Linked DNA regions of Homo sapiens: all the other regions are linked to region 1. Evidence: fine-mapped expression QTL. A gene starts in region 1. Each other region holds a variant in brackets. All regions are shown on one strand. Distances are from middle to middle.

What was found. PIP is the estimated chance that this variant, and not a neighbour inherited with it, causes the effect.
Region 2: its variant is fine-mapped to the expression of STK39 in monocytes (TOPMed, PIP 0.97).
Region 3: its variant is fine-mapped to the expression of STK39 in prefrontal cortex (CommonMind, PIP 0.95).
Region 4: its variant is fine-mapped to the expression of STK39 in caudate (GTEx, PIP 0.96).

The regions. Positions count from the first base shown.
Region 1 is chr2:168,243,692-168,251,799 of GRCh38, reverse strand. STK39 (serine/threonine kinase 39) reads left to right here and starts at 4,205. Exons shown (of 18, transcript NM_013233.3): 1 at 4,205-4,572. The coding sequence starts at 4,365. It overlaps LOC107985959 (a long non-coding RNA gene), which reads right to left and starts at 3,839. Exons shown (of 5, transcript XR_007087282.1): 1 at 3,732-3,839. RefSeq lists silencers at 4,000-4,249, 4,460-4,509, 4,870-4,919, 5,010-5,099, 5,120-5,319.
Region 2 is chr2:168,180,079-168,188,186 of GRCh38, reverse strand. It overlaps STK39 (serine/threonine kinase 39), which reads left to right. Exons shown (of 18, transcript NM_013233.3): 2 at 6,097-6,209. Among named protein-coding and RNA genes, the nearest start is that of STK39, 63 kb to the left of the region's middle. The variant G/A (reference allele first, on the strand shown) is at 3,138.
Region 3 is chr2:168,118,011-168,126,118 of GRCh38, reverse strand. All of the region lies in intron 10 of STK39 (serine/threonine kinase 39), which reads left to right. Among named protein-coding and RNA genes, the nearest start is that of STK39, 130 kb to the left of the region's middle. The variant T/C (reference allele first, on the strand shown) is at 5,061.
Region 4 is chr2:168,305,635-168,313,742 of GRCh38, reverse strand. No RefSeq gene overlaps it. Among named protein-coding and RNA genes, the nearest start is that of STK39, 62 kb to the right of the region's middle. The variant A/G (reference allele first, on the strand shown) is at 3,971.

The DNA of each region.
Region 1 (8,108 bases):
TTGGCAGACAGGAATAATGATGATGATGGTGGTGGTGGTTTCCATTTTGTTAAACTTCTATTATGTGTCATCCATTATCCTAAGCCATTATAACAACCCATGTGGAAGCTATTATTGTACTGATTTTTGCACAGGAGAAAACTGAGACTCAGAGAGTGAAGTAAGTCCAAAGGCAGAGACTTAAAAAAAATGAGGCTAGGCATGGTGGCTCACACTATAATCTCATCACTTTGGAAGGCTGAGGTGGATCACCTGAGACCAGGAAGTTCAAGACCATCCTGGGCAACATAGCAAAACCCTGCTTCTCCAAAATTAAATACAAATTAGCTGGGCATGGTGGCACACACCTGTAATTCCAGATACTTGGGAGGCTGAGGAAGATGGATTGCTTGTGCCCAGGAGCTCGAGGCTGCGGTGAGCCATGATCATGCCACTGCACTCCAGCTTGGGTGACAGAGCAAGACCTTGTCTCTAGAAAAACTGTTGAGCTGGGCACAGTGGCTCACGCCTGTAATCCAAGCACTTTGGGAAGCCAAGGTGGGTGGATCACCTGAGAGGTCAGGAGTGTGAGACCAACCTGGCCAACATGGTGAAATCCTATCTTTACTAAAAACACAAAATTAGCTGGTGTGGTGGCACACACCTGTAATCTCAGCTATTCAGGAGGCTAAGGCAGGAGAATACCTTGAACCCTGGAGGCAGAGGTTGCAGTGAGCCGAGATCGTGCCATTGCACTCCAGCCTGGGTGACAAGAGTAAGACTCTGTCTCAAAAAAATACAACACGAAACCCCGTCTCTACTAAAAATACAAAAATAGGCCAGGCGCAATGGCTCACGCCTGTAATCCCAGTACTTTGGGAGGCCGAGGCGGGTGGATCACAAGGTCAGGAGATCGAGACCATCCTGGCTAACACGGTGAAACCCCCGTCTCTCCTAAAAACACAAAAAAATTAGCCAGGCGTGGTGGCGGGTGCCTGTAGTCCCAGCTACTCAGGAGGCTGAGGCAGGAGAATGGCGTGAACCCAGAAGGCAGAGCTTGCAGTGAGCTGAGATCACGCCACTGCACTCCAGCCTGGGTGACACAGCGAGACTCTGTCTCAAAAACAAAAACAAAAAAATAAATAAAAATACAAAAATTAGCTGGGCGTGGTGGTGGGCACCTGTAGTACCAGCTACTTGGGAGGCTGAGGCAAGAGAATCGCTTGAACCTGGGAGGTGGAGGTTGCAGTGAGCTGAGATTGTGCCACTGCACTCCAGCATGGGCAACAAGAGCGAGACTCTGTCTCAAAAAACAAAACAAAACATCGAAGTCCAGATTTGAATCCAGTACTTTCTTTCTTCAAGGCGTTGGCCACTTCACTACACATCCTCTCTTAGATGTTCAAAGGGTTTATGAATAAATAATGGAACTCTACGAAACCTCTTTGTAATACAAATAACCACTGCAATAATCTGTTTATAAAATGAAAATGTATACTTACTTCATCTAAAGCATTATTTACCCTCCAGGGGACATTTGGCAATGTCTGGAGGCATTGTTGATAGTCACAATGTCAGCAGCAGGGTTGCCACTGGCATCTAGTGCATAGAGGCCAGGGTGCCTTTGTCTGCTCTGGCTGGTATGACAAAATACCTTAGACTGGGTAGCTGACAAACAACGGAAATTCATTTTTACAGTTCTGGAGGCTGAAAGTCCAAGATCAAGGTGCCAGCAAATTAGGTATTTACTGAGGGCTTGCCCTCTACTTCATAGCTAATGCCTCTAGCTGCATCCTCATCAAGCTCCTTCCGGCCTCATTTATAAGGGCACTAATCTAACTCAGGAGGGCTCTGTCCTCATGACCCAATCTCCTGCTAAAGGCTCTTAATACTATTCCACTGCCGATTAAGTGTCAACATATGAATTTTGGGGGGACAGAAACATTCAGACCATACCACAGGAGAACAGACCTCTACAACGAAGAGAACTATCTGACACAAAACAGCGCTGAGATTGAGAAACCCTGACACATCATGAGGCAGTTGGATACACTTTAAAAACATTTAGACCCTTATTTTTCCTTTCTATTTTTAACATCGCTCACTGAATGTACTCTTTATGCATTGAAATAAACCTTGTTTATATTTTAAAGGCACCCGCCTCCATCCCCATCTTTCAATTTAAATTTAGTAATGGATTTTCCGGGAAAAGTGCATATCAGTTGAATACTTCTAAAAAACATATATTTCTAAGTTTTAAGTACCATTTTACCCAATTGTTTACAGAAACATTAACTCTAATGCTTTTGTATAATTTTAAAATATTATTCATATTCTGTTCTTCATTTATAAAAATGATGCCAAAGAGCAATGCCAGGGGACATTCTTCTTTAAACCGATTTACTGTAGAAATGATGGATGTGCACTGAGTCATCCACTCAAGCAAGTCTTCATCCTGGTAGCCATTTGGAAAGCGGTTGACTAGAGACCGACATGTAGTCTGTGACTGGGGAACAGTTGCTTTTTGTGGGAGACTAATTGATCTGTGTTTGATTCAATTCTGTGATATTGATCTTGACGGCATCATGTTTTCCTACTAAGTCCCAAGAACATTCCTGGTCTTCATAATCCCACTTCATGGTTTGAAAGTCAAAAATAGAAATTCATATGACAAAATGGAAGTCATATTCATTTGATCATTTTTCTTTTCCTTTAAAAACAGTCCTTAAAAGTTCTTTGGGGTAGGGTGGAGGCAGCACTTGAAGAGGTCAGCAGCCATGGCTTGGTATAAAGAGCTCCCCTGTTCCTCAGAGGCCTAGAATTTGTTTATGAAGGGCTCTGTTTCTTGACAGACATGACAAGACACAGTTTTTGAAGTCCTCCGCATCAAAGAATGTACACTTAGTTCAGCATGAACTTCTGCTTCAAGACCAGAGCGAGGTAGCTGCTTTACTCCAACTTTTGTAATGCTCCAAGAGATTAAGTGCCCTCATCTTCAGTGGACATCAATGTTTTGATTAGACAACTAACTTTCCTAATAAATTTCTGGGCTTCTTCTGAATAATCTTTCAAAAATTTTAGTGAGATTTCTGTACATACACTCGGGAGACAAAATCATGATATCCCTAGAGTTTTTATTACATCCTCATTATTCTTACCTATTTCTTCAGCAGTCCTAGCAATGAGAACCAGACAAGATCATCTTGGCCAAACGACCAATACTATTGGTTTACTGCCCCGTTTCAGTTGGAGACAAGAACGGTGGATCCTGGTCACCTCCACGGAGGGAACACAGAGAACATTCACTGTTAAATATGACACCTATAATTAGGAAAACCTATGGTTTTACCATAGCAGTTTTACAGACGAGGTTATTTTTGGGGTGTTGAAAAAACAGCAATTAAAAGCTTCCAACACAGTTTATTCATGCCCCAATAAATTATTTCCCCACCAAGTATACGCTCTTAAAGAAACGCCTGATGTCTGGCCTCAGTGTCCTCACGGGCTAACGTGGCAATTATTAAGGGTGTAGAATTTGAGCAAACTTTCTAAACCTCTCCTGCATGTCTTATTCTAATTCCACAGCCCCTTAAATCGCCTCCCTGGGATCCAGGCGGCTTGGAAAAAATGAAGTCTGAACAGCCAGAGACCTAAGGAATCAAGTTTCATTTACTAAGAAAAACTAGAAGGACTGCGATTAGATTAGGCAAGGTGGGAAAGGGATACCGGCAAGTAAAGCGCCGGAAACTTACAACTTGGGTTATTTTCTAACTGGCGTCTTGCAAAGGGACACCATGTAGGTATCCCGCTCGTCAACTTGTAAATGAACTTCAGGTTCTCTTTGGTGGCAGGAGAATTCTGAATGTGAGAACCTGGCGGCCGTTCAACGACCCCGCCCTCGGGGTCCCCAGGGGGCGTCCTCCGGCAAGCCTGATCGTCTGGGGCCAAGGCGCAGGGCGAGCAGGGAGGGAGGAGGAGAACCAGGGCCGGTGGCCCCGAAAGCACACACAAAGCGGCCTGACTCCTTTGGTGGGAACTTCCCCGGCCGCCAGCGGAGCGGGAGCGGGAGGGGGCGGCGGAGAGGGGGGGCGGCGGTTCCCCTCGCCGAGGCGGAGAACAGCGCGCGCTAGGCTCTGGGCGCGCGGCGAGCGCAGCGGCCGCCGCCTCCTCCCTTCCCCGCCTCCGCCGGCGCTGCCTCCTCCCTCCGCCCAGCTCGGCCTCCCTTGCTCCCTCCCCTCCTAGCTGGCTTCGGCGGGGACGGCGGCGGCGGCGGCGGGCGGGGAGGGCGTGCGCCGGCCGAGAGGTGTCGGCGGCGAGGCAAAGGAAGTTTCAAGTGGAAGGTCGTCCGTCGGCCGGCGCGTCCTCCTGCTCTCCTCCGCAGCATCATGGCGGAGCCGAGCGGCTCGCCCGTGCACGTCCAGCTTCCCCAGCAGGCGGCCCCGGTGACAGCGGCGGCGGCGGCGGCCCCGGCGGCCGCGACAGCAGCGCCGGCCCCGGCAGCTCCCGCGGCCCCGGCCCCGGCCCCGGCCCCGGCGGCACAGGCTGTCGGCTGGCCCATCTGCAGGGACGCGTACGAGCTGCAGGAGGTTATCGGTCAGTGCGGCGGGCGCGGCGGGGCCGGCACAGGCCGGGCGCCGAGGCCGGGCGGGAGGGGGCGCGGGATGCTGGGCTAGCCTGCATGCACGCCCTGGAGGCAGAGAGGCCGGCTTCGGGGCCTACTGGCTTCAACAGTTTTTTTTTTTTTTTTTTTTTTTTTTTTAATTTTTAATGTATTTGTTCGTTCTATGAGCGTTGGTGCTGCAGGAGGCGGCGCGGCGGATGTGACTCGCACTGCAGACGAGCCGCATGCTGCAAACTTTTATCTCAGGGATCGCCGGGGCGGTGGAGCGGAGGACCAGGCGGCGCCGCCGCATCTTCCTCCCCCCGCGTGCCGGGACCGCAGCCCGTGGCCGGTGGCCACGCGGACAGGCAGCCGCGGGTGGGGTGTGGTTGCGGGGGCCCCGCCCTGGGTTTCCAGGGCCCCGGGGGCCGCGTCCTGGGGGACTCTGCGGGCGCAGCCGCTCCTCTGCCTCCCGTCGTGACCCTCTCGTCGTGGGTAACGGGGCCACGTAGAAGCCGCGGAGGCCCCAGTGCTTTTCTGAGGCCGGGGAGGATGCTGGCCTCTCTTCCTGACAGCCGCCACTCCACGCCCGCCTTGCAGCCCGGCTCTCCGCGCCACTCGGCGCGCCCGGGTACCCGCCTCCCTCCGTGCCAGGGTGCGCCGCCTGCCGCCCAGTCCGGCTCCCCGGGGAAAGCGGGTGCCCTGGCCTCCTGCCCTGCACCGGGCCGATGCTTCCCTCTGTTTCAGGCCGAGCTGCAAGAGTGAAATCCGAGGCTGCCGGTGATCTGCTCTCTGCCTTTCGTTGCCTTCTGGCCGGCTCACAAATATCACCTTATCTTACATTTTTAAATACCTGGCAGAGTCGCAGGGCTCGGCGTTACTTTTCCTTGGGCCAAGCACTTGAAGGGCCAGGAGATTTGTTTTGTCCCTTGACTTAGAACCTTCCCTATTGGATCATCCAGTTTGAGAGTCTTGTCACTTAGGGAAGCCTCCAGGTTAAGTGGGCCCTCAGCGTCTAACCTTACTGACGCAGGGATGGGATGTTGCCTTTCCAGAATCTTGGTATATAAGTACAGCGATGAAAAAGGAGTTCAGAATATTTATCTTAAGTATTTTTTCTAACTTTCACTTCAAAAAATTCTTCACCTCCTTTTAAAAAAATTAAAACAGATATAAAAATTTCACTAGGTGTTTAAATGAGCCTTTATCACCTGCTATTGGGGAATAAAACAGCATAGACGGAAATATATATATAAATATATACATAAAAATATGTGAGAAAATGTTGGGCAGGTCCGTAACCTAGGATATATACAAGCTTCAGATAACCTATAATAGGCATCTGTAGACAAAATTCTTTGAAAACCCAGATCTTTCATAATTTTTGACCAAAGACTCTAAAGGGATGAGTCTTCATGTCACTGCCTGAAATAGCTTCAGGGGCTTCTCAAAGCCTGGAATATTCCATGGAAACCTCTTTAACCTGGCATATAGGCCCTGTACCCTCAACCTGCCTGCCTCCTCCCATTGTCTACTCTTCAGTGATTGCTTCCTGAATACACCGCTGTCTTCCGCACATCTGGTCTTCCATTCTTTGCTGCCTTGCAGAGGCTCTTCCCTCCTGTGAGTGCCCATCTTTGTGTACTAAATCTCACTCCGCTTCCAAGGTGAGTGTGAATATTCCTTGAAAAGCCTTCTGCTTCTTTCAAGGCAAAATGCCGTGGTTTCTTCTGCCCCTCTTTTTACAGACCTCATAGCATGTAACCTCATAGTTGTTATTTGCGCAACAAGATCTGAAGGCCTGCTGTGTCCCAAGCATTGCCCCACTTGCTAGCAATATAGAAATTAACAAAAGTGATCCCTGCCCTAAGTTGTTAGGAGACATAGGGAAAGGATCCTATAGGATGTGATGAGTAAGTACTGGGAGAGCCCGAAGGAGGGAGTGACTGCCAGGAAAGAGAAGGAAGCAGAGTATTTCTTAGTAGAGGTCGTAGTTGAGCTGGGTTTTAAGTCTGAGTTTGTAAGGTGCTTAATTATTTCCACTGTTGCCTTCACTAACCAGCTGTGAACTCTGACAGGAAGAGGTGGGCCATAAAAGTTGAATAATGGTATCTGCCACATAATTCTCCATAGAGTCCATAGGATTGGGAGAAGTTATAATCAATTTATATACCTACTTGGTCAATTATTAGGGTTAAAATACAAACGTTGCCTTTTGAAAACAGTATTTTTTTGTGAACTAATAAAATCTTAGTTTAAGTTGAGTGGGATTAATGGCAGGACTTCTTTCTGTTTGCAGTCCCAGCAGTGTTAATTATGGTTGGTCAGTTTAGTGGAAAAAAAGAAATTTACCTGAGGAATTTGAGAACAAAAACACCTGCTTATTCTACCCTGACTTTTGCGCATTTGCATTGTGGGAAGGGCTTTTCTACATTTAAAGTTTATCTCATATTTTCCCAACTAAAAGAGAAAGAGTTGGCCTGTGTGGAGGCCCTGTTATTGAAAAATCAAATTGCTGGAATAGGTTTTTCGCAAGGGCTTAATGTTTATAAGGAATTACAAACCTGTTTCCATTTAGGGTTTAATGCTAGTTGAGAGATTAAGACTGAACTTGTGGTTAAGCACTTTTGCTTAAACATTACACGCAGAAGTTAGCAGTTCAAACACTGAACCAGTTTCAACATGAATGCCAGTTGACAGCCTTTGCTTCTACCCGCCATACGGCAGGTGTCATATGATATGACTCCAGCAGTGTGAACCGTGACCAGCAGCAGGAGGCTCAGATGTGCCTGAACAGAAAACCAAAGGAGGCACCGTGTTTTAACTTTCCAGCATGGCACGGGCACGGAGGACTTTTTCTTCATTTCCTTCTGGGCAGAGTTTGGTCCCCCAGGATTAAGAGAGAATAAGTTTACTAAAATCCAAACAAAGCAGGTTCAGTTGTTTGACTTCAGTTTTAGAAAAATAAACACAGGATTTTGCAAACCTAAAAATAAAGTTTTCTCTTTATTGTATTGTTGTTCTTGTGTTTTAAAACGTCAGTGGAGAAATTGTAATGCTCTTAGGAGTATTCTGGTTCATAAGTTTATTCATGACCTGGAAATGATGTAAAATCGATGGGAGGGAGCTTTATATTTACAGAGGGGTTAAAAATGTTGGAAATTATTAAATTCCTTCTTCCAGACATTGATATCCTTGTCTTAGTAGATTTCAAATATTTCTGTCTTTTTGGAGGCTTTCCGACCTGTTTATACTCTTCAGCCTTGTTAATCTTTGTTCCTTACCTCTCTAAAGAAGGAATTTGGGGGTGAGTTGAGCCCCCAAAAGTAGGTACCCCTACCTTTAGAAGTATAAGGGGCACTTAAAGCTATGCCAGTTGAAAACTTAGTTTATTTGTTGGGGGTGTTAATAATATTACCTAGATTTGCTAAACAGGGAATGAAAGTGAATCATATAAGTGTTTACTTGGCCATCCGTAATGGAATGGAGCAGCCTCAATGAACTTCTCATTCAAAGAATTGTAGTCATT
Region 2 (8,108 bases), 64 kb after region 1:
TAGAGCTCAAAGAGTAAGCTGGGGAAAGGCAGGATTAGAATAAATCAGCTGAACCAAAGCCATTTGTTTTGTTTACTATCCATCACCAGCTAGCACCTCTAAAAAGAAAGCCTGAGCCCACTCTTGACTCTGTTCACTGGCAAAGGACAGCTGAGCATACTTAAGGAGTTCTTGCACGTGCTAAGAGATGGTCAAACTCTTATTAAAGTTCCAACTTTGTGCTTCTCATTTAAATATAATATGGTGATTAGAACTTCCTTCCAGGGGCCATAACTAATGTTACAGGCTAATGTGATGCCTTGAAAAAAATCTTGCCATTTATGGGAAGGGGTTACTGGACAATTGACGTCTTAACTTTAACGTAAAGTTCTTATGGACTAATTTTTTTAAAAAAAGTACTAGATGTTTATTGCTACATTGTTCATATGGGGATGAAAACTAGAAATAAAGGGGATACTCATCAACAGAAGGAGGGCTGAATAAATTATGGTACATTAATACTATGAAATATTACGTGGTATTAAAATGACAGATTGACAGGACACCAGTTGACCTGGGGGGATTTCCCTAAGGAGCAACGCTAGCTAAGATTTAATTAGTGCTTACTATGTGCTAGGCACAGTTTCAAAGACTTTTTTTGTGTTAACTCATTTAATCCTCACAACCACTCTATGAGTGAAGTAGCATTATTGCCGTCTTACCAATGAGGAAACTGAGGCATGAAGAAGTTAGGCAAGTCATCCAAGCATAAGCAGTTAGTATGTGGCAGGTCTGGGATATGAACCCATGCAATCTGGATTGACATAGATATTTTAAAATAACTTTTTTTTTTTTTTGAGATGGAGTCTCACTCTGTCACCCAGGCTGGAGTGCAGTGGCATGATCTCAGCTCACTGCAGCCTCTACCTTCCGGGTTCAAGTGATTCTCCCACCTCACCCTCCTGAGTAGCTGGGATTACAGGTATGCACCACCATGCCTGGCTAATTTTTGTATTTTTAGTAGAGACGGGGTTTCACCATGCTGGTCAGGCTGGTCTCAAATTCCTGACCTTGTGATCCACCTGCCTTGGCCTCCCAAAGTGCTGGGATTACAGGCGTGAGCCACCATGCCCGGCCTTAAAATAACTTTTTAAGGTTAGATATCAAAGTGCATTATACATGACAATCTTTGCTATGGAATATTAATTCACAGCTGTTTCTGAATTGGATTGTCTCTTATATTTTAAACTCTTATGCTCATCATGCTGTATCAGACTTTAGAAATCATTTAGTTCTTTGGTTTCCAAATTTAGCTCTCCTAGCCTCTCTTTTAAACCAGTCTAATCTTCCTGGTGCTAAGCAAAATGAAACTCAGTTCTGACCCTGAGCCACTTTGCCCTCTTTTCCCTTGGGTGCCATATAAACAGTAGATATAGTTTACCTCCTTTATGTCACAGATGGAGAAATGAGTCCCAGAGAGAGAGCCTAACATTTATTGAGTTGATGTTTTCCAGGGATGTGAAATATATTATGTTATGAAGCCTTAAAGGTGTATTTTATTATGCCCATTAAGGAAGCTGAAGTCTAGATAGCAGTTAGGTCGAAAGTCACAGAGGGAATCAATACCACGTTTGGATAGAATCCCTGTCTAACCTTCTTTTCAAGGCTCCTACTAACCTAAGATGGGAACTACAATGAGCTACCAGAGGCCTTTCAGTTGAATCTTGCCATTTGCTGTTGACTTAATCAGGAAGCTTCTAAGAACTTCTAATTAGTATGGCATTCTCTGCCATAGGTGTTAGTGGAAGAATGACTTTGAACAGACATTTCAAGGCTTTTGTATTAGTCTGCTTGGGCTGTTGTAACAAAATACCATATACTGAGTGGCTTAAACAACAGAAATGTATTTCTCACAGTTCTGGAGTCTAGGAAGTCCAGATCAATGTGCTGACCACTTCAGTTTCTGGTGGGCTCTCTTGCTGGCTTGTAAACAGGCACCTTCTTGCTGTGTCCTCATAGGACAGAGAGGGAAAGTAAGCTCTCTATTGTCTCTTTTTGTAAGGATACTAATCCTATTGGACCAGGGCTCTGTCCTGATGACCTCATTTAACCTTTAATTACCTCCATAAAGGTGGTAATTATCTGTTAACTGTATCTCTAAATATAGTCACATTGGGGATTAGGGCTTCAACAAAGACATTTTAGGGGAACACAGACATTCAGTCCACAACAGCATTTTAGTCATCCCTGTTAACTTCTGCAGAGGAAGTGATCCTATAGAAGGATTTATTCCACTTGAAGCAGGAATGGTCACCTTTGGCACTTTATTATCTAGTGAACTGCCTGCTACATGGCAGGGATTTAATTACTGTTTGTTGATGAATTAATATAAGCAAATATCTTTTTGCTGCTTTTTTGCACTAAATGCACTAAATGCAAAGAGGAAGTTATTGTGTGAGTCATGGGAGTAGGGACTTTGAACATACTGTTGAAACTGCATTTGACAATAGTAGTGATTTTTGCAAAATAAACACTGTAGTTTTTCATGTTAATTTCACATAGACCTTAGTGAAATGCAAAGTTAGAATACTAAATTATATTTCCATGAAATATTTCTTTGGATAACTGAAAGTATAAAATGCAGGTATGCAGTGTTCTGGTTATTTACCTTAATACCAGCAGCAGTACAGAGGGGAAAATGAGAAGAGGTGTCAACTAAAGGAAAAATCTGCATCATGGTAATGAACGTGAGCAATCTCTTACCTCTGATTGCCATTGACATAATCACTATCTAAAACTTCCAAGTAGCTGTTCTTAGTCGGGAATTACTTAGCAAAAGTGAATTGAGATAGAGTGACTTAAAAGAGTGAACTGAAAAGATTTAAAGCCGTGCCCACTTAACTTGTGCATATGTGCATACAGGCCATAATCCTATTGAATGATTTATTGCACTTGAAATAGGAGTCAGGAATAAAATGAGAAATTCATAAAATGTTAAGAACTCTTATTCCAAAAGGGGTGCATGATACTTCATTGAAAATATGCTACTAATGTTAATGAGTCATGTGTCAGTATCATATATTGTTCAAAATAAATACAAGGTGCTGTTCAGCATAGTAATTGCTCTTATTTTATTTCATGTTGCTAACACTTGTCCA[G/A]TTCCTGTATTTACAAGCCCCACATTTTTTAGCTTCCTCTTAAACTAATCAGCAAAGTGCATAAAAACCCTTAAAGCAAGACAGTGTTGGTATTATTTCTAAATGTCCTTTAGAATTATGCAGTTAGGTCACCTCCTTTCCTTTCAAAGCATGGATTTACTCTAATCCTGGGAATCCTAATCTAGTACTAGCAGACTCCAAACTTTTGATCATCACTTACAGTAAAACATGTCATACTAAAGCTTGGGCGTAAGTGAAACAAAAGTTTCATAAAGCAGTTTTTACCCTTATTACATTCTGATGCTTCCCTTAAACAATGCTGGCCTCCACCCAGTTAGTTGATTTTGTGACCAGTGGATCCTCACTGGCAATTTGAAAAAACACCAACCTGGTGCACAGAATGGTAGATAAGGAATAAGTATGCCTAGGGTCCTAATCCTGTGCTTTCCAATTGCTGCAGGAAACACATCCCTATCCTTCACAGGACCCTGTTTTCTCATTCATAAAGTGAGGGGGTGGGTTGGACTTGATGCTCTCTAAGGTGCCTTTCCACCTTTAACTTTGTTCTTGGTCTCTTCTATAGTTGAAGGGAAATCTTTGGATTTAGAGTAGAATCTCCCAAACTGTTTAATGAATGGTTAAATCCATCCATGTTGTGACAATGATCTCAGGTCACAAAGCTTCATAATTCTGTCTAGAGATGAGAAGTAGCCAGTCGTTCCTTAGTTAGCTGTAGTTGTAAAGCAGTAACAATTCTCTAGCTGTAAAGCTTTAATAAAAGATTTTTCTCACCACCTACCCCTCCATGTTTTTAGAATTCTTATTTTTTGTTCCTTGGAGGTTAGGAGACTTTTACTGTCAAGGACTTAACTATGAGAGGTATCTCTGTATTACATACGCTTGTTTTGTCCTTTCTGGGAATTAATTTATTCTTTCCTGTTTTTGAAACTCCTTGATTTGTGAATGTTCTGGAATGTAGATTAAGGATGGAGAAGCTGAGCTGGGGGGAGATTTATTGCAGGTAGAGCTGAGGATGGTTTCCCACCAGCAGCTAAAGATGTTAGTTGATTTCTCTGCTGGGTACCAGGCCCAGTGCTAACCAGCTGCATAGCACTTTCTCTGTGGCTCCCTTCAGTGATAGTGTCTTGTTCCGGAGACTGGAAAATATACTTTGCTATCAGCAGACTTTTTGTATTGTTTGGCTCTGCCATCTGGACCATTCTGGATTGAACCCAGTGGGCTGTGATCTGCAGGGCCAGTGAAGCCAAACTAGTGGGACCTGGAGTAGCAGCCAATGGGGTAGCAGCTGATGGATGAGCAGTGAGATTAGGGAGAGGAAGGCCCTTTGAAGCAACCTGTCCATAGCACTCTCTTCCCAAACAGCTCTAGCAAATGAGGCTCATGCAGACCCTGGTCTGGGTTGTTTGTCTTCTGTTGAACCATATAGGATGGAAGAAAGTTTTTTCCTAGCAAGGCCAAAACAAGTGAGGAAGGGAAGCATGTGCTCTGGCTTGTGGGAAGTAGAACAAAAGCACACATCTCGGAGTCTGGCAGGCGTGATGCTGATACTGGCTCAGGTACTTATTAGCTCTATGTGACCTTGGGCAAGTTTTCTGAGTCCCGGTTTTCTCCCATGTAAAATGAGGCTAGTAATAAAAATGTACAGGCTCATAAGGAGTCAAGTGTCTACTGTGCAGTGGGTGGTCAGTATGTGTGTGTGGATTTTCTTTCCCAGTGAACACAAATTGGGCTTCCCTGGAATGGTAGTCTTTAAGTTGGAGACCTGGGTTTGGAGGAGTAGGGTGATCTGCTGGGGTTGCCAAGTCGGGGGCCAAACCTGATGATGAGGCCACAGGGCGGAAGAAAGGGCAGAGCTTCACCCCTGTAAACACCCATTTGGGCCCTTCCTTGGGGTGGGAAAGCCCTGATTCGCACTAGAAATGTCATGCCTTTCTATCACATAAATTAGGAAGGCTAATACTGATCTCTCTTGTTGCCAAATACTCCCCTGCTTTCCCTTTTATGATGCTATTTGATGAATCATTTGAGAAGTATTACCTGAAGAAAAACTTTAGGGAGAAAGATTGTCACCTCTGACCACCTTTGCACAATCCTGAGTGCAGGCTGTTTCTGTTGTTGGCTATCTTGCAGTGGTAGAGGATTTATGTGATGAGAATGGCAGTTTTGGTGTTATTTGCAGAATTGAGATGCCTTAACCTGAAAACCTTTTTGCCCCTATGGAGTATAAAGCCGATTAGGAGTTCTTTTGTGCTCTGCCGCAAATCATTACATGTCTACATTTTGCTCTTATAAAATATGGATAATGACATGACTCTGTCTCTTAGGAGTCTGAGTGCATTAGCTAATGATCATGAAACCTTAGAAATAGAAAATTTATATGAATGTCAAGAGCTTTTGTAATTACACATTTGCATCATTTTGCTTGGCATCCTTGAAAGTTGTGCTTTCAACATGAGAATACTAGGGTTGATTCTTGTTTTTCTCATTGTGGAGCAAGCTCTGAAGAAATAAGCCCAAAGAGTGTTCAAACATCAATTATCTCAGCTTCTCATGAAAGCCTTGAAGTAGCTTAGACCAGAGTGGTTTGGTTTGGGCTGAGGTGGAAGAAGAGCTTGAGATATTTTAAAGGCACTCAAGCTAGAAAATACCAGGAACTGAGGATGGAAATGGCTTTCATGCAAGGTTGTATGTAGATGCTCATGTCCCTTGTCCCCTGTGTCCTCAGACATACATTGTCTGGAAAATGCAGTTTTTTTTTTCTCCTCCAGATAATTATTTTAGGATTTAAGAAACTCTTTAAAAAAAAGATGTCAAATGGTAATGTTCTGAATACGCTGAGTAGAAGAGTTTAAAAAAATTGATCTTTAGGAAAATAGTTACAGATAGTAACCTCACAGTGTGCCATTTGATCGCTGATGTTGTTTTTATTTCATTGCAGGCAGTGGAGCTACTGCTGTGGTTCAGGCAGCCCTATGCAAACCCAGGCAAGAACGTGTAGCAATAAAACGGATCAACTTGGAAAAATGCCAGACCAGTATGGATGAACTATTAGTAAGTAACAGTGCAGGGAATACCTGCTGGTTGCTTTTCTTAATCTATGGGTATATGGGGATGGTTGGGAGAAGAGCAAGGTGTTATCTCCAGTTTTGACATATGCATTTCTTGGAAAGCAGCCCCTACCACTTCCTGCTCCCCAGATTAATGGGACTGTACCTTATGATTGTGTTGTATAATGAACACCTTCCCTTGCTTTGAGAAACAGTATTTTGCTCAGTTCGAATAATCCCAAGGTGAGAATGGCCTCAGCGTTGGCACTCCACTTGCTGTATCAAGGGCACACACTGTGGCGTGACCTAACATGACAGGATTACTGACTGCAGTTTTGGATGGTGAGCTTCTGGCCCTCCATCTAGAATGTGTGACACAAATGGAAGTTGTCCCCCAAACTATTTGTTGGTCATTTTAGCTTTCATAAATTATAGCATCACACAAATTTGAGTTATTTTTTTTTTAAATGCTCTGTAGCTTGCATTTGGCTAATGAGAGGAGTTTGTTTTTCTTAACGTGGCAATTTGTACTTCTTATTCTAAATGAGTACTTTATATAAATAATTGGAGCTTGTCAGTGTGGATATGACTATAGTAGCAATGGTTGGTTGAAGGAACATTTGCTTTTGGCTTAGCTGACTCATTATTAAATGAACAGCTTGGCAAATGGTTATTAGTTGCCCGGCAAACTGTGAAGGGTTTGAGGGTTTAATCTCATAAATATCGTTGTTGTTCTACCGGCCAATTTTCTTTTTTTCCCTTTTGGCCATTTATTTGAGGATAATAGAAAACTGCAGTGGAGGAGTTAACTGATTGGTTATCCCCACACTAATCCCAGTACAAATATTAGTCCAGTAGCTCCATACAAGCTACAAAGTATAATGACAGTTGGCTGCAAATGAAGAAGCCTTTTGTTACAGTCTACATTGAGAATGGAATGTCATTAACAACAGCTTTTTGTCTTTACTCAGAATATAGCTTTTATTTTAGGCTTAATTACAGTACACTATAGTATAAATTAAGTACAAGGATAAAGCTGTACTTTTCCAGATCTGTTTGGCCTTACATTTTAAATTAGGCTACACAATGCATAGATTTCATTGGGTTTTATTGAAGCAATGGATTGCCGGCTAAAACTCAGAAGAGAACCAGGGCTTCCACAATTTAATGTTAATTTTTGAAATTTGCATACATTCAAGGCTTTTAACGGCCTTGAAATTTCAGCTGTGCTTTGCTCTTACTGAAATTCCTGCTGCATGCTACTTGTCTGTTGCTTGCTATCTTAGTGACCAGTAATATTGTGCCTTTGTCACCCAACCAGTTTTCAAGGTCACTTTCTCTGAGTTGGAAAACGCATTTTATAAACTGTGGGGAGAGTTGGGTCCTGCTTCTGCCACTAAACTTGTTTTCACTTTAGTAGAGTTACACAACAGCTCTGCGCGATTTAAAAAGAGTTGAATTGGAAGTTTTCTTCTAAGATCCCTTTAGGAATCCTGAAATTCTGTGGCTATGCATAAGTGTACTTTAACATTTAAAAAAAAAATTTGGAGTGTGCATTTAAATATATGTACTGTTTGGATGTATCACTCAAGAATTTGCCAGTGATAGTTGTGTTTTTGTTTTTTGTATTTTTTTGAGACAGAGTCTCACTCTGTTGCCCAGGCTGGGGTGTAGCAGTGTGGTTTTGGCTCACTGCAACCTCCGCCTCCTGGGTTCAAGCGATTCTCCTGCTTTAGCCTCCCGAGTAGCTGGGATTACAGACATGCACCACCACGCCCGGCTAATTTTTGTATTTTTAGTAGAGACAGAGTTTCGCCATGTTGGCCAGGCTGGTCTCGAACCCCTGACCTCAGGTGATCTGTCCGCCTCGGCCTCCCACAGTGCTGGGATTACAGATGTGAGC
Region 3 (8,108 bases), 130 kb after region 1:
TGGGCATGGAGGCAACCATGTTGATTAGAAATTTGCTGTCATAAACAGCATTCTCTTCTCCTCTCTTCTGCTAACCAACATTAAGAGATAATTTTCAATGTGCATTTTTCTTTAATGTGAACAATTTTCATATTTAAAGGAGAAGAGGGGCTGGTATTGTGGCTGTTCTTAGAAAGCCCCATGGAGCCCACCAGTGCTGCCCTTTAGCAGGAGAGAAGCAGAGGCCCGTCATACTCATGTTTGGCCAAAATGTGATGTTTTTGTTGGGAGCCACATAATTCCACGAGGGTAGGTGATCTTGTCTTCATCCGGATTGACTCCTCTAAATCACGAAAAAATAGAAAATGGAAAAAGATCGACATGGCCTCTTTGGTAATTTAGTATGCAAAACATTTTTTTTGGGTGTGTGGTAATTGTAGAAACTGAGGATATTTATTTTCTTCCTACAGGCAGAATATTTGGTCCATTCTGGGTTCTTTTGCTGACAGTGTTGTTTAGGGATCATCTTGATTTTCTTTGGCTCTAGTCTGAGGGGCCCAGGCATGTGGTGAAGGGTAATATAAGATTGGATGTTCCTGGACCTCAAGACACTCTATATATTCTAAATGAGAACATGCTAGTAATGACCCATGAGAACAGAGCTAAGTGCAGCTGTATAACTTTTTTTTCAAGTTTTCACTATCTTTGTGCATGAGAATAAAAGGCTTTGTAGCCATCGCTGCCTCTCCTGTGACTTTCTGAGGGACCTGTCTCCAGCCATGTCTTGGGGTTTGAAAGCTTAACCACGTGGTGTTCCATCTTTTACTGTACTGAATTCATTAGGTGGGGAAGGGAGTCAATGGTTCAGTTAAAATTGAATGTAGATGCTTAGGGCTGTGTGCATCTTCTTTTTTTTTTTGATTATCAAAATCAGTTCTTATTATATCCTTTTCTTTGTATTACAGACAGTATCTTGCTATTTTTACCCATGTTTCACATCAACTCTTTTGTTTTATTATTATACTTTAAGTTCTGGGATACATGTGCAGAACGTGCAGGTTTGTTACATAGGTATACATGTGCCATGGTGGTTTGCTGCACCCATCAACCCATCATCTACATTAGGTATTTCTCCTAATGCTGTCCCTTCCCTAGTCCCCCACCCCCCTACAGACCCCAGTATGTGATGTTCCCCTCCCTGTCTCCATGTGTTCTCATTGTTCAACTCCCACTCATGAGTGAACATGCAGTGTTTGGTTTTCTGTTGCTGTGTTAGTTTGCTGAGAATGATGGTCTCATAATCTGTGTGCATCTTCTACAGGAACATTTAACCCTCAGAATTGGCTGATGTCTAAGTTTTATGTTAGTGATAACATACTTGAGGCACCACACTCACACTCATATTCATATGCTTTCTGTGGCTTTCTAAAACCAACATATGGGTTGGGCGCAGTGGCTCACACCTGTAATCCCAGCACTTTGGGAGGCCGAGGTGGGAGGATCACTTGAGGTCAGGAGTTCAAGACCAGCCTGGCTAACATGGTGAAACCCTGTCTCTACTAAAAATACAAAATTAGCCAGGCGTGGTGACACTTGCCTGTAAACCCAGCTACTCGGGAGGCTGAGCAGGAGAATCATTTGAATCCGGGAGGCAGAGGTTGCAGTGAGCCAGGATCGTGACACTGCACTCTATCCTGGGCAACAGATCGAGACTCCGCCTCAAAAAAATAGAAATAAAAAATATAACCCACATATGGCAGGACAGAGGGCAAGGGGCTCGTAGCTATGCAAATGTCTGAATGCTCACTGCTCATCCAAAAAACATATTGGCCATAGGAGGGAATGAAGAGGAAACATGTAATAGGCAGTTCTTTCCCTTCTTATGGTTGCCTGTGTTTTCACTGGAAGTAGATTTACTGGAGGGTTATTGCTTGAACTTTCTTAATCATGAAATTAAGTAAGCAATTAACTAAACAGTACAATGTTTAGTCATTATCAGAAGGAGGTAAAGGGTATCACATCGCTGCTGTCTTTGGATGGAACCGCTGTGAAGTGGAAAGACTGGGATGTTATTTGTGGGTCCCAGAATTTCTAATATTAGGCTATGAGATTGGTTTCATGCCAAGGCCCCAAGGCCCTTGGCCCCACTGGATCCACTGATATGCTTAGGAATCAGTGGGTAGGAATATTTCAATTCACATTTATTTAATACTTACAAGTGTTGAGAACTTGTCCTGTTTGTTTTTAACTTTTTTTTTTTTTTTTTTGAGATGGAATCTCGCTCTTTTGCCCAGGCTGGATGAAGTGCAATGGCGTGATCTCCACTCACTGCAACCTCCGCTTCCCAGGTTCAAGCGATTCTCCTGCCTCAGCCTCCTGAGTAGCTGGGATTACAGGTGCCCGCCACCATGCCCGGCTAATTTTTATATTTTTAGAAGAGACGGGATTTCACCATGTTGGCCAGGCTCTCTTGAACTCCTGACCTTAAGTGATCCTCTGACCTGGGCCTCTAAAAGTGCTGGGATTACAGGCATGAGCCATTGGTGCCTGGCTTGTTTTTACTTTTTCTTATGAAATAATTTCAGACTTACAAAAAAGTTAGAAAAATAGTGCCAAGAATTTTCGTATGTGTTTTCTCTTACTCTTTATTTTGAAACATTCCACAGTAGGTTGCAGACAGAATGCCCTTTACCTCTAAATATACTTCACTGTATATTTCCTAAAAACAAGGATACTCTCTTACCTAGCAACAGTACAGTTTTCAAAATTAGGAAAAGAACATCGATGTAATACTATTATTTTTTAGATCTTATTTGAATTTTGCTACATTTGCCAATTTTCCCATTCATGTCATGTATCTGGTCCAGGATTCAGTTCAGAATTATTGAGTTGTTACACCTCCTGTAGTCTCTTTTAATCTAGAACAGTGTTTCTTTTCCCATCTGTGACTCCTTTGAAGAGTATAGGCCAGTTATTTTATAGAATGTCCCTCCGTTTAGGTCTGTGTGATATTTCTGAATGATCAGATTCAGTTTATGCACTCTTTGATAGACATACCTCAGAAGTGATGTTGGGTTCTTCTCTGTATCATATTAAGAGGCACATGGTATTGATTTATTCCTTTACTGGCAACGTTCACTTTGATCATATGCATAAGGTGGGACCTTCCAGTTTCTTTATTGTAAACACAAGTATCACTTCTTAATAGGATGGATTTATTTACATTCACTGATTACATTAAACATTAAAAGATAAAGTGAATATATTTACTGTATTGAATCATTAATCTTTTTTCAAGGAAACATTTATACTTTATGTCATGGCTCTACATTCATAGGCTATTAATGAGGAATTTTATTGATAGATAGAATGATAGAAATCTTGTGTATAAAAACACCTTGTTGGCTGAGTGTGGTGGCTCACACTTGTAATCCCAGCACTTAGAGAGGCTGAGATGGGAGGATTGCTAGAACCCAGGAGTTTAACACCAGCCTGTGCAACATGGCAAGATTCTGTCTCTACAAAAAAAAAATTTAGCTGGGCATGGTGGTGTGTGCCTGTGCTTCCAGTTACACAGGAGGCTGAGTTGGGAGGATTGATGGAGCCCAGGAGGTTGAAATTGCAGTAAGCCATAGTCACACCACTGTACTCCAGCCTGGGTAACAGAGCAAGACCCTATCTCAAACAAAATCAAACCCAAAATGACAGTACACTGGATAAAGAAAATGTGGTACATATACACTATGGAATACTACACAGCCATAAAAAAGAACAAGATCATGTCCTTTGCAGCAACATGGATGGAGGTGGAGACCATTATCCTAAGCAAACTAGCACAAGAACAGAAAACCAAATGCCGCATGTTCTCACTTATAAGTAGGAATTAAGCACTGAGTAAACATGGACACAAAGAAGGGAACAATAGACATGAGGGCCTACTTGAGGGTGGAGGATAGCAAGAGGGTGAGAATCGAAAAACAACTTACTGGGCACCACACTTATTACCTGGGTGATGAAATAATCTGTACACCAAACCGCCACAACACGTAATTTACCTGTAAAACAAACCTTCACATGTGCCCCTGAAACGAAAATAAAAATTTTACAAAAACCAAAACAATACAAACCACTTTGCTAGCAGATTTAGGCAGGAAGTGGAGGTGCACCTGCTGCCCCAGTCTCTATGCCTGGTCTGGAAACAGCAAGAGCTATATCTGTATCTTTTGTTGGGTGAGCTGCCTAATCTCTCTGAGCCTAACCTGTAAGGCAGAGCTGACAATACTTACATTGTGTTGCTGTGAGGATGAGAGATGATCTGTGCAGGATGTCTGGTGCCGTGTTTGACACATAGCAGGTGCTCAGTCAGCAGTGGCAGTGTGATTGTCATGTAAATAAGGAGAATGATTATTGTGGCTACGGAAGACTGGACATTTTAGAAGTATGTAGTGAAATCAGGAGTGAAGAGAGTGTCCTGTAGGTGGGGTGGGGTGCAGATGGGTATTGAAGGTTGTTTCTGCATTGCCGTTAATTTGGGTGAAATGGAGGAAAAGCCTATGGATGCCTACAGAAAGAAGGAAAATAATTACAGTAGTTAGTTCATTGCCATTGCCTATTCACCTGTCTTCATGTTTTCTTTTCCGATCCATCAAGGTGCTGGCAGTGGGTGAGAACCAGGGCTTTCTTTCACTACAGTAAACCCTCCCTGCCCTGAGAAGGGGCGTGTATGTGTGAAGAGCCTAAGAGTAGTGAGAATTAAATACAAACACAGCCAATATTCTTTCACAGCTTTCAGATCACTTTCATTTATGCTTCCATATTTGTCCCAAACAATTGTTCTTGAAGACAGGTAGAGCAGGTGTTACTGTCACACTTTACAGATGGAAATGTGAGAGGTGAAAAGGACCTGCCCAAAGTCACATGGCCAAATAAGCAGGAGTGAACTCCAGTTCTTATTCTCAATCTATGCTCTTTCCACCAAATCATACCTCAGAATGAAGAAGAAGAGAACGGAGAGGACAGGAAGGAAATATAGATGGAGAAGGTAGGCAGAGTTAAGTGGTGTACACAGGAAAATGGGAGCG[T/C]ATTTGTCATTCTCAGAGTGAGTCGGCCACCATTTAAATTGTGTGAGGAGGATGTCTGTGCTATTCACAGGCACTAGGAGATGCTACAGGCACTAGGAGATGCTGCAGGCATCATTGCAGGAATCTGGGAAGTTTGCCAGGGTTCTAGCAAGTGTAGAGGGAAGGAGGTGACAAAAAGGCTTTGGAGATTATGTTGGGGAGAGAGATGGCTAGTGAGAGTTTGGTTAGCATCAACAGTTGTTAGATACCGTCAGAAGCTCAGCTTCTCACTCATGAAGTGGTAATGGTAATAATAGCTATGTTTGGGAGGACTAAATTAGGTAATACATAATATAATAGTGGTTGGGACAAAATAATAAGTGGCACAGGTTATAGCAAAATTTTTTAATAATCACATATATTGCTTTTATTACTATAGTTATTATAGTCCAGATTGTTTTTGTAACATTTATGATTGCTGCCACAGCTGTGGGCACCCCTGCTGCTGTTCCCATTTCTGCTGCTGCTAGAACAGCTGTTTCCATTACAACCACTGCTACCAGTAGTGGGCACTCAGGTGCACATGATACAAGGACATAGCACAGACAGTGAAACTCACCTTTCTGTGAAGAACGCACAAACGTCACAAGACATGCAAAACTCAAAGAGTAATAGAGAATAAGCGCTTTGGTATGTGGGCATAGCATCTGTGCTACAGCTACGGGAAAGGTCATGAAGCTGGTAGATGGGGGACATGTGAAGGGGGAAGAGAGAAAAACGATATTTATTGTGCACCTTTATGCATCCTGCTAGATGCTTACGTCACATTTATCTCAATTACTGCAGCCATACAACAATCAGTAAAGTTCTGAGTATAAGATATGTTAAATAGGTTAGGCCAGAGGATAAGATACATTAGACTATTAAGAATGATTTTTAAAAAGCTATAAATATTTTGAAATACCAACAGAAAAGGAAAAACCATCTATTAAAAGTGAGTTAAGCTATCCCTAAAGGGTTACAGGATTTTAAAATTGAGAACCACAAATATCTCCTAGTTTTCCATGCTTCTGTGTACAGGCCTGAAAATTAAGGCCTAAGGAGGTCGAGCCTTAACCAAGGCCAACTGCATCATCATGTCCTAACAGTCCAAAGCCAGTATCCCAGTTTGTTACCATTTAGTTTCTTCTTTTAGTCGATAAAGAGGGAAAATTACCCTGAGTTTCTACAGAATTGCTTTTTTCCCCTCCTGGAATCTTATAATTAACTTATAAAATATCGAAGGTTATGCATTATCATTAAAGCAGAGAAGAGAGAGTGATTTCAAATGCTTGATGGAATGATGTTAGTTTTGTTCCAAGTTTTCCCAGTAGAGGGCAGCAATGGGTTTTAAGTCTGTGCCATTGTGGAAAGCTAACTGAGCAAAAGTTTTGGCTTTGTCGAAGGCCTCAGACTTGGAGTTGAGGGATCAAAGGGGTGTTAGGTCCCTACTGAGCCATGAACAAGAGACACCTTAGTCAATTAGGGTGCTACTTTACTGGGCAGGAGATTGAAGGGTGATGGTTTAACGACTTTTCACTATTACTATTTTTAAGTTATATTTTCTATTAGCAAATCAAAGCAATCTACCATTTGCATTTTACATAATTCGTGTCAGAAACAAACATCTCAATTTTGAAGATGGGATTGGAGAGCTTCCAGTATTTTGTGGTCTCAAGCTATTTTTAGAAAATTCTTTGGTTTCTGCAGTTCTCCTTAGAGCTTGGTAAATACGGGTAGAAGAGAGTCAACATGTACAATAATAACAGTGAAGGAGAAGTGGACCCACTTCCGCAGTTACCGTGCATATTATGGGTTTAATATAAAATACTCCCAGTGATCCACATCGGCCTGAGTGCACATGTCCTCTCTCCACTTTGTGTTTCCTTTTCCCATCCTCTCGCTTAAAACCGACCATGTGCCTTGGGAATAAATCTCATTGAGGAACTCACATGCTCACAGGGAGGAGGGCAAGGGTGGTTGAGGATATTATTTTTCCTATTTTAGAGCTGAGAGAACAGTAGGCCAGAGAGGTTAAAGTTACTGATTTCACTGGGGCTGTTACAGGGACAGGCGTTCACAGAGTGTGAGCTCATTGGTGTTTTCACTGCTTTTTTATTTTAAATTCTTTGCTTTTTAGTTATTTGAGAACTGAGAGTTCCTTTGGTCAGAAAAGAGCTTTTGGTCACTAGGGGGTGCTATTAGAACAGTTCATTGACTAAGAATCTGGACAGGAATTGCTTACCAGTCTGTAAAAAGCCTTGCAGCCGTAGATTTTTTCCTTTTGCTCTGTGTCTGTGGCTTGACTGGTGTTCGCACTGGGGGTGAATTAGGCAGAGGTGAGGGTAGAGGAAAGAGCAAGGGGGAAAAGCATCTTACAGAGTTACTTTCAATTCATTTGGTGAATTGAGTTGTTGTTTTTTTTTTTTTTTTTTTTTGAAAGCATATGTTCTGGGAAAGTGACTCCTTTCTGGTTGCCTTTGACTGGGAGCTGAGAGGATCCACTCTGGAAATTGTAATTTGCTGATCCCCATTTAGGGAGAATGTCTTTATTTTTAGATTGATCTTGAAAGACAGTGAGCTGTGTAAACTTTCACAGACTTGGAGGTCCAGTTTTGGATATTTAGAAATAATGACACATACTCTGAAATTATTGTAAGAGATACTGTTTCTACAAATTTAGTTTGTAGAAAACTAATTGTTACTGGAAATCACATCCAGTTAGATTTGTGAGGTCTGGATAGTCTTCAAACATATTATGTGCTTCCTTTTTGCCTTTGGGAAATTTGCTAACTTTTCCCAAAAGCTTGCGTGCATGAGCTAGCTTTTCTGGAACTGAAGTGGCGTGTTACTTGCTGAGAGAAGCTCCCGACTGCCTCCTCCTCCTCCTCCATCTGTCCATGCAGTGCTCCCCGAGCATCCTGGTAACCTACTAGGTGCTGACCTTCCCTACGGTAGGTGGCCTTTATTCAGCCTCTCAGCTCCCTCTAATCCTAGTGTACCATTTCTTTCCTTTCTTCCGAAAGGAAA
Region 4 (8,108 bases), 62 kb before region 1:
TTTACCCCTTAGGCAAAATTCTTGCTATTATTTGAGTTCCTTTATTCCTATCACTTCTTTGGTGAAGACAGGAAACATACTGTAAAAGAAATCCATCACTGACTTCAAATTACCCACCTCAGTGTCTAAGTAGTTAATTTTTAAAGGGCACAGATCCCACTGTGCTAAGTACAATAGAAATAAATAATGTATATCTATGTGTTTCTCATGCACTTGTCCTTACCCATATTGTATGGATGAAAGATTTAATCGATCTTATTTTGGACTTAGAGACCAAGCCAGTCACGCACTGTTATTAACTTTTGGAACAAATATACTTCCTTCAGTGCATAATTCTTTTTAATATTCAAACTCACAGGAGAAAACTCCTAAGGCATCGGCCTGAATTTCATAGCACTTGTTTACTCACATATCCCCTTGGTACATTTCTGATATATGACTTTCCTTCTTCAGTAGCAGGCATTTTAAATTAAACATGATTTTGCATGATACTTTTCTAGACTATATATAGACTTGCATAGGCTTTGTATTCTTGAATAAATTATTGTTACACTCGTGACAAATCTCTCAAACCGCTATATTAGAGAGTCTGGGGGAAAATATCATATTCTTTTTTAAGTTAGCTGTAAGTTTTCATCGGAGTGGAAAATACTTCATTGTACAAACCACTAACTAAATTTAAATTGTAATTCTTTTCAAACATGTTCTTCCAGACTCGGTTTTTAAAGTATGTTTACTAAAACCCAGGTATGTCAATTGTTTATTAAAAGACCTTTTTATTACAAGTTGTACAAATTAGACTTCCTAAATATGTTATTTTCCAAATGAAATATCTTAGCCTTTTTATCACAGAATCAAAAACGAATCATTTTTCTTTCCAGATTCACTTCAATTACCTCAAAATTATATTTGGCCATTGGATTTATTTCTGAGTGGTCAGACATTCAAAAAATAATTTTAGAGAATGTGTGCCCAGTGAGTGTCAGAGAAGAAAAACGAATCTTTGGCACCTAACTTTAGTTCTTGTGGCAGAGAATACAATTGTCCAATATGAGTGTGCTTCTAAAAATAACTGTGGGTAAAACTGTGGCTCTGTGGTAAATTAAAGTATCTCCTATAAAGATGATTGAGCTTTATATATATATTTAGCTTTTGGGATGAGACAAAAACCAGAGTCTGTTGGATAAGACTATTAACCAAACTCAGTCCTGTTTTAGTTGAAGGCAAGTTATCAAAGAGATAGTCTGAAGAAACCAAGTGAGTTCACATTTATTTTTAATTTTCAATTTCTATACACAGTAAGGTCTTCTTTTTAAGGGCAAAAAAAGCACATTTCATAAATGAATCAATTCATGGAACAGCTCTGTGAGACAGGTCATGTTGACAGAAAGATGGGTTAAGGAGGGGTGGAGTGTGGAGACTGTCTCTCTGCACTCAAAATTCAGTGTGTGTTAATTTTGGAGAGAAATTATTTATGTTACCACTGCAAATGTTTAACTTATAAAAGCCACACTGTGGAAGGGGGAATGGCTGATGGGTTAGGCTCATCCAGCAAAAATATCTGGTTCTCAAGTTTATAGCAAGCTTTTGTTTTGATAAAAGAACAAAAACACATCTTTTTAGTTTTTTTAAAAAATGCCAGATGGAGTGTTTTGCTTTGTTTTGTTTTTTTAAAGAGGAGTCTATTAAACTGACATTTAAACTCAGAGTTCAGGAAAAAAGATTCATTCTAGAAATGAAGTTTGGTTAATTTCTTTCTTAAGGAATAATTAAGGCCAATACTCTATCTGCCCAATACAGTAGTTACTAGCCACATGTGCTATTTAAATTTAAATTATTTAAAATTAAGTAAAATTGAAATTACTTAAAATTAAGTAAAATTTAATTTTCAGTTTCCCAGTTACATGTGCCACATTTCAAGTGTTCAACACATGTGGCTAGTGGCTACCATATTAAACAGCACAGATAAAGAACATAGGCAGCTGTAGTCTAATAGCTCACCCCGGAGCTTTTGTATAAATAGCCCACATTTAGAAATACTCCAGGAGGCAGAAAAAGCTGGCAGAATAGAAGCCTATGCCCTTTGTCTCCTCTGCAGGAACACCACATTTTAACAACTATCTGCACACAGAAAAGCACTGTCACAAGAGCCAAAAATCAGGTGAGAAATCATAGTACCTGGTTTTAATATCATATCACCAAAAGAGGCATTAAAGAGAGTTGGAGAGACAGTCTTGAATCACCAACACCACCCCTCCCCCATCCCTGGGCAGCAGCTGTGCAGGGTGGAGAGTCTGTGCACTTGGAGGACTTTACATTGAACTCACTGCTGCCCTGTCATAGAGGAAAACAAAACCATGCTGGGTTCAGCCAGCACCTGATCAAGGATGGGACATTTGGACCAGACCTAGCCAGAGGGGAATTGCCCATCTGGTGGTCAGAACTTGAGTTTCTTGGCAAGCCTTGCCACCGCAGGCCAAAGTGCTCTTGGGTCTTAGGTAAACTTGAAAGACAGTCTAGGACATGAGGCCTGCAATTCCTAAGCAACTCCTAGTGTTGAGCTGGGCTCAGAGAAGAGGACTAGGGTGACCTGGTACCTCACCAGCTGGAACAGCTAAAAGAGTGCTTGTGCCACTCTTTCTTCAACCCTAAGCAGTGCAGCTCACAGCAATGAAAGTGACTCCTTCCTTTTGCTTAAGGGGAGGAAATAAAAGAGTAAACAGGACTTCATCTTGTATCTTGGATACTAGCTCAGCCACAGTAAGATAGAGCACTGGGCAGAGTTATGAGGTATCCCCCCATTCCAGACCCTGGATCATGGACATTTATAGACACACTCTGGGAACCCACTGGAAAAATGGGAACCCCTTGCCTTGAAGGGAAGGACTCAGTCCTGGAAGGATTAATCACCTGCTGACTAAAGAGCCCTTGGGTCCTGAATAACCAGCAGCAACACCCAAGTAGTACACTGTGGGCCTTGGGCTTTGAGAATGTGCTGAGTTCAGGTGTGACGTGGCACATTTCCAGGTGTGACAGCTACAGTGAAAAACTCCTTTAGACTCCTTCCATTTGAGAAAAGCAGAGGGAAAGTAAAAGGGACTTTGTCTTGTACCTTGGGTACCAGCACAGCCACAGTGGGGTAGAGCAACAAGCAGGCTCTTGCAGTCCTCGAGTCCAGGCCTAGGCTCTTGGATAGCATTTTAGGGCCTGCCCAGGGCATGAGGGTAGCCTACTACCCTGAAGGATGAGTCCTGGTCCTCGTAGCATTCACTACAAACTGACTGAAGAGCCCTTGGGCTTTAAGTGAACATCTGCAGTGGTGTGGGAGAATACACCCCTCACCTCTGGGCCTGTGGTGGCAGTGGCCACAGGGAGATGCTCCTCTGCCTGTGGAAAGGGGAAGGAAGAGCAAGAAGGATTTTCTCTTCTGGTTTGAGTGCCAGCTTAGCTGCAGTAAAAAAGAACATCAGGCAAAATCCTAAGGTTTTTTACTCCAATCTCTGGCTCTCAGACAACAGCTCTGGACCTGCCCAGGGCCTTGAGGAACTTGTTGCCTTTAAGGGAAGGGCACAAACCTGGCTGGCTTTACCACCTGCTGATTACAGAGCCCTGGGGCCTTGAGTGAACTTAGGTGGTAGCCAGGCAGTGGTTACAGTGGGCCTTGGGTAACCTCGGTGCTGTGCTGGCTTCAGGTCTGACAAAGTACAGTCCCAGCAGTGGTGGCAACAGGGGTGCTTATATCACCACACCTACGGTTTCAAGTGGCTCAGCACAGAGATAGAGAAAGAGAGAGACTCCATTTGTTTGGGAAAGAGTCAGGGAAGAAAACAAAAGTCTCTGCATGGTAATCCAGATTATTCTTCTGAATTTTATCCAAGGTCACCAATGTGGTACCTCTGTGAGTCTGCAGGAACCATAGTGTTATTGGGGTTGGGGACCAAGTTGCTCTGAGTACCTGGAAAGCCTTGCC[A/G]AGAAGACAGACACAAACAAGCCCAGACTGTGAAGACTTCAATAAATACCTAACTGACACTTAAAAACATCCACAAGCATCAAGACCATCCAGGAAAATAGGACCTCACCAAACAAACTAAATAAGCCACCAGGGACAAATTCTGGAGAACCGAAGATATATGGCCTTTCAGAGAGTTCAAAATTTCTATTTTGGAGAAATACAATGAAATTCAAGATGACACAGAGAAGGAATTCAGAATTCTATCAGATAAATTTCACAAAGAGATTAAAATAATTGAAAAGAATCAAGCAGAAATTCTGGAGCTGAAAAATGCAACTGACATACTGAAGAATGCATCAGGTCTCTTAATAGCAGAATTGATCAAGAAGAAGAAAGAATTAGTGAGCTTGAAGGCAGACCATTTGAAAATACACAGTCAGAGGAGACAAAAGAAAAAAAGAATAAAAAAGAATGAAGCATGCCTACTAGGTCTAGAAAATAGCCTCAAAAGGACAAATCTAAGAGTTGTTGGGCTTAAAGAGGAGGTAGAGAAAGAGGAAGGGATAGAAAGTTTATTCAAAGGAATAATATCAAAGAATTTCCCAAACCTAGAGAAAGATATCAACATTCAAGTGCAAGAAGGTTATAAAACACCATTTGACCCAAAGAAGATTACCTCAAGGCATTTAAGAATCAAACTCCCAAAGTCAAGGATAAAGAAAGGATCCTAAAAGCAGCAAGAGAAAAGAATCAACATACAATGGAGCTCCAATACATCTGGCATCAGACTTTTCAGTGAAAACTTTATAGGCCAGGAAAGAGTGACATAATATACTTAAAGCACTAAAGAAAAAAACCTTTTATCCTAGAATAGTATATCTGGTGAAAATATCCTTCAAACATGAAGGAGAAATGAAGACCTTGCCAGACAAACAGAACCTGAAGGATTTCATCAAAACCAGAACTATCCTATAAGAAATGGTAAAGGGAGGTCTTCAATGTGAAAAAAAAGAAATGTCAATGAGCAATAAGAAATCATCTGGGTAAGGCACAGTGGCTCATACCTGTAATCCCAATACTTTGGGAGGCCAAGGTGGGTGGATTGCTTGAGAACAGGAGTTTGAAACCAGCCTGGGCAGCATGACAAAACCCGATCTCTTCAAGAAATACAAAAATTAGCTGGGTGTGGTGGTGTGTGCCTGTGGTCCCTGCTACTCAAGAGGCTGAGGTGGGAAGATCACTTAAGCCCAGCAGGTCAAGGCTGCAGTGAACTATAATCACACCACTGCACTCAAGCCTGGGTGACAGAGTAAGACCCTGTCTCAAAACAAGCAAACAAACAAAATCTGAAGGTACAAAACATACCGGTAATATTAAGCTTAAAGAAAAATACAGGCCAAGCATGGTGGCTTATGCCTATAATCCCAGCACTTTGGCACGTCAAGGCGGGTAGATCACAAGGTCAGGAGATCAAGACCATCCTGGCTAACACGGTGAAACCCTGTCTCTACTAAAAATACAAAAAATTAGCTGGGCATGGTGGCACATGCCTGTACTCCCAGCTACTCGAGAGGCAGGAGAACTGCTTAACCTAGGAGGCAGAGGTTGCAGTGAGCTGAGATCATGCCACTGCACTCCAGCCTTGGCAACAGAGCAAGACTCTGTCTCAAAAAAAAAAAAGAAAAAAAGAAAGAAAGTTAAAAAGAAAAATACAGAATATTATAATACTGTACTTGTGTATAAACTACTCCTAAGTAGAAAGACTAAATGATGAACGAATAAAAAATAATAACTACAACAACTTTTCAAGACATAATAAGACCTAAAGAGAAACAGCAAAGAACTAAAACGTCGGGGGATGAAGTTAAAGTACTGAGTTTCTGCTTTGTTTTGTTTTGGTTTTTGCTTATTTGTTTATACAATAAATGTTAAGCTGCCATCAGTTTAAAATAATGGGTTATAAGATAGTATTTGCAAGTCTCATGGTAACCTCTAACTGAAAACCATACAATGGATACACACACACAGAAAAAGCAAGAAGTTAAATCCTATCACCAGAGAACATCACCTTCACAAGAAGGAAGGGAAGAAGGAAGAAAAGACCACAAAACAATCAGAAAACAAATAACAAAATGACAAAAGTAGGTCCCTACTTATCAATAATAACATTGAATGTAAATGGACTAAACTCTCCAACTAAAAGGCACAGAGTAGCTGAATGAATGAGAAAAAGACCCCATGATCTGTTGCCTACAAGAAACACACTTCACCTATAAAGATAAACATAGACTGAAAATAAAGGGATGAAAAAAAATATTCCATGTCAATAGAAACCAAAAAAAGAGGCAGGAGTAGCTATACTTATATCAGATAAAATAGATTTCAAAAACAAAACAGTAAGAAGAGACAAAGAAGGCCATTATAATGATAAAGGGGTCAACCCAGCAAGAGGATATAACAATTGTAAATATGCATGCACTCAGCACTGGAGTTCCCAGATATATAAAGCAAATATTATTAGAGCTGAAGAAATACACCTCAATACGATAATAGTTGGAGACTTTAACACCCCATTTTCAGCATTAGACAGCTCTTTCAGACAGAAAAAATCAACAAAGAAACATCAGACTTAATATGCACTATAGAACAAATAGACCTAATAGATATTTACAGAATATTTCAGCCAATAGTTATAGAATACACATTCTTCTCCTCAGGCACATGGATTATTCTCAAGAATAGACCATATATTAGGTCACAAAACAAGTCTTAAAACATTCAAAAAATTGAAATAATATCAAGCCTCTTCTCTGGCCACAATGGAATGAAACTAGAAATCAACAACAAGAGGAATTTTGTAAACTATATGAACACATGGGAATTAAACAATATGCTCCTGAATGACCAGTGGGTCAATGAAGAAATTAAGAAGGAAATGGAAAAATTTCTTGAAACAAACAATAATGGAAACACAATATACTAAAGCCTATAGGATACAGCAAAAGCAGTGCTAAGAGAAAGATTTATAGCTCTAAGCACCTACATCAAAAAAGAGGAAATTTAAATAAGCAACCTAATGGTGCATATTAAAGAACTAGAAAAGCAAGAGCAAACAAAACCAAAAATTAGGTGAAAAAAATAATAAAGATCAGAGTAGAAATAAATGAATTTGAAATGAAGAAACAATATAAAAGATCAATGAAACAAAAAGCTGTTTTTTTGAAAAGATAAACAAAATTGACAAATCTTTAGCCAGACTAACAAAGAAAAAACAAAAACAGAGAAGACTCAAATAAAATCAGAGATGAAAAGGGAGACATTACAACTGATACTGTAGAAATTTAAAGTATCATTAGTGGCTACTACGAGCAACTATATGCCAATAAATTGGAAAATCTAGAGGAAACGGATAAATTCCTAGATGCATAAAACCTACCGAGATTGAACCATGAAGAAATCCAAAACCCAAACAGACCAATAACAAGTAACAAGATCAAAGCCGTAATTAAAAGTCTTCCGGTAAAGAAAAGCCCCAAGACCTGATGGCTTCACTACTGAATTCTACCAAACATTTAATGAAGAACTAATATCAATCCTACTCAAACTATTCTGAAAAATAGAGGAGAGAATACTTCCAAACTCATTCTATGAAGATGGTATTACCCTGATACCATATCAAGAAAAGAAAACTACAGGCCAATATATTCAGTGAATATCGATGGAGAAATCTTCAACAAAATACTAGCAAACCAAATTCAACAATACATTGAAAACATCATTCATCATGACCAAGTGGGATTTATCCCAGGGATAAAATATGGTTCAACATATGCAAATCAATCAGTGTGATACATCATATCAACAGAATGAAGTACAAATCAATATAATCATTTCAATTCATGCTGAAAAAGCATTTGATAAAATTCAACAGCCCTTCATGGTAAAACCCCTCAAAAATCTGAGTATAGATGGAACATGCCTCAACATAATAGAAACCATATACAACAGACCCACAGCTAGTATCATATTGAATGAGGAAAAACTGGAAGCTTCTCTTCTAAACTCAGGAATACAGCAAGGTTGCCCACTTTTACCACTGTTATTCAACATAGTACTGGAAATCCTAGCTAGAGCAATTAGACAAGAAAAAGAAATA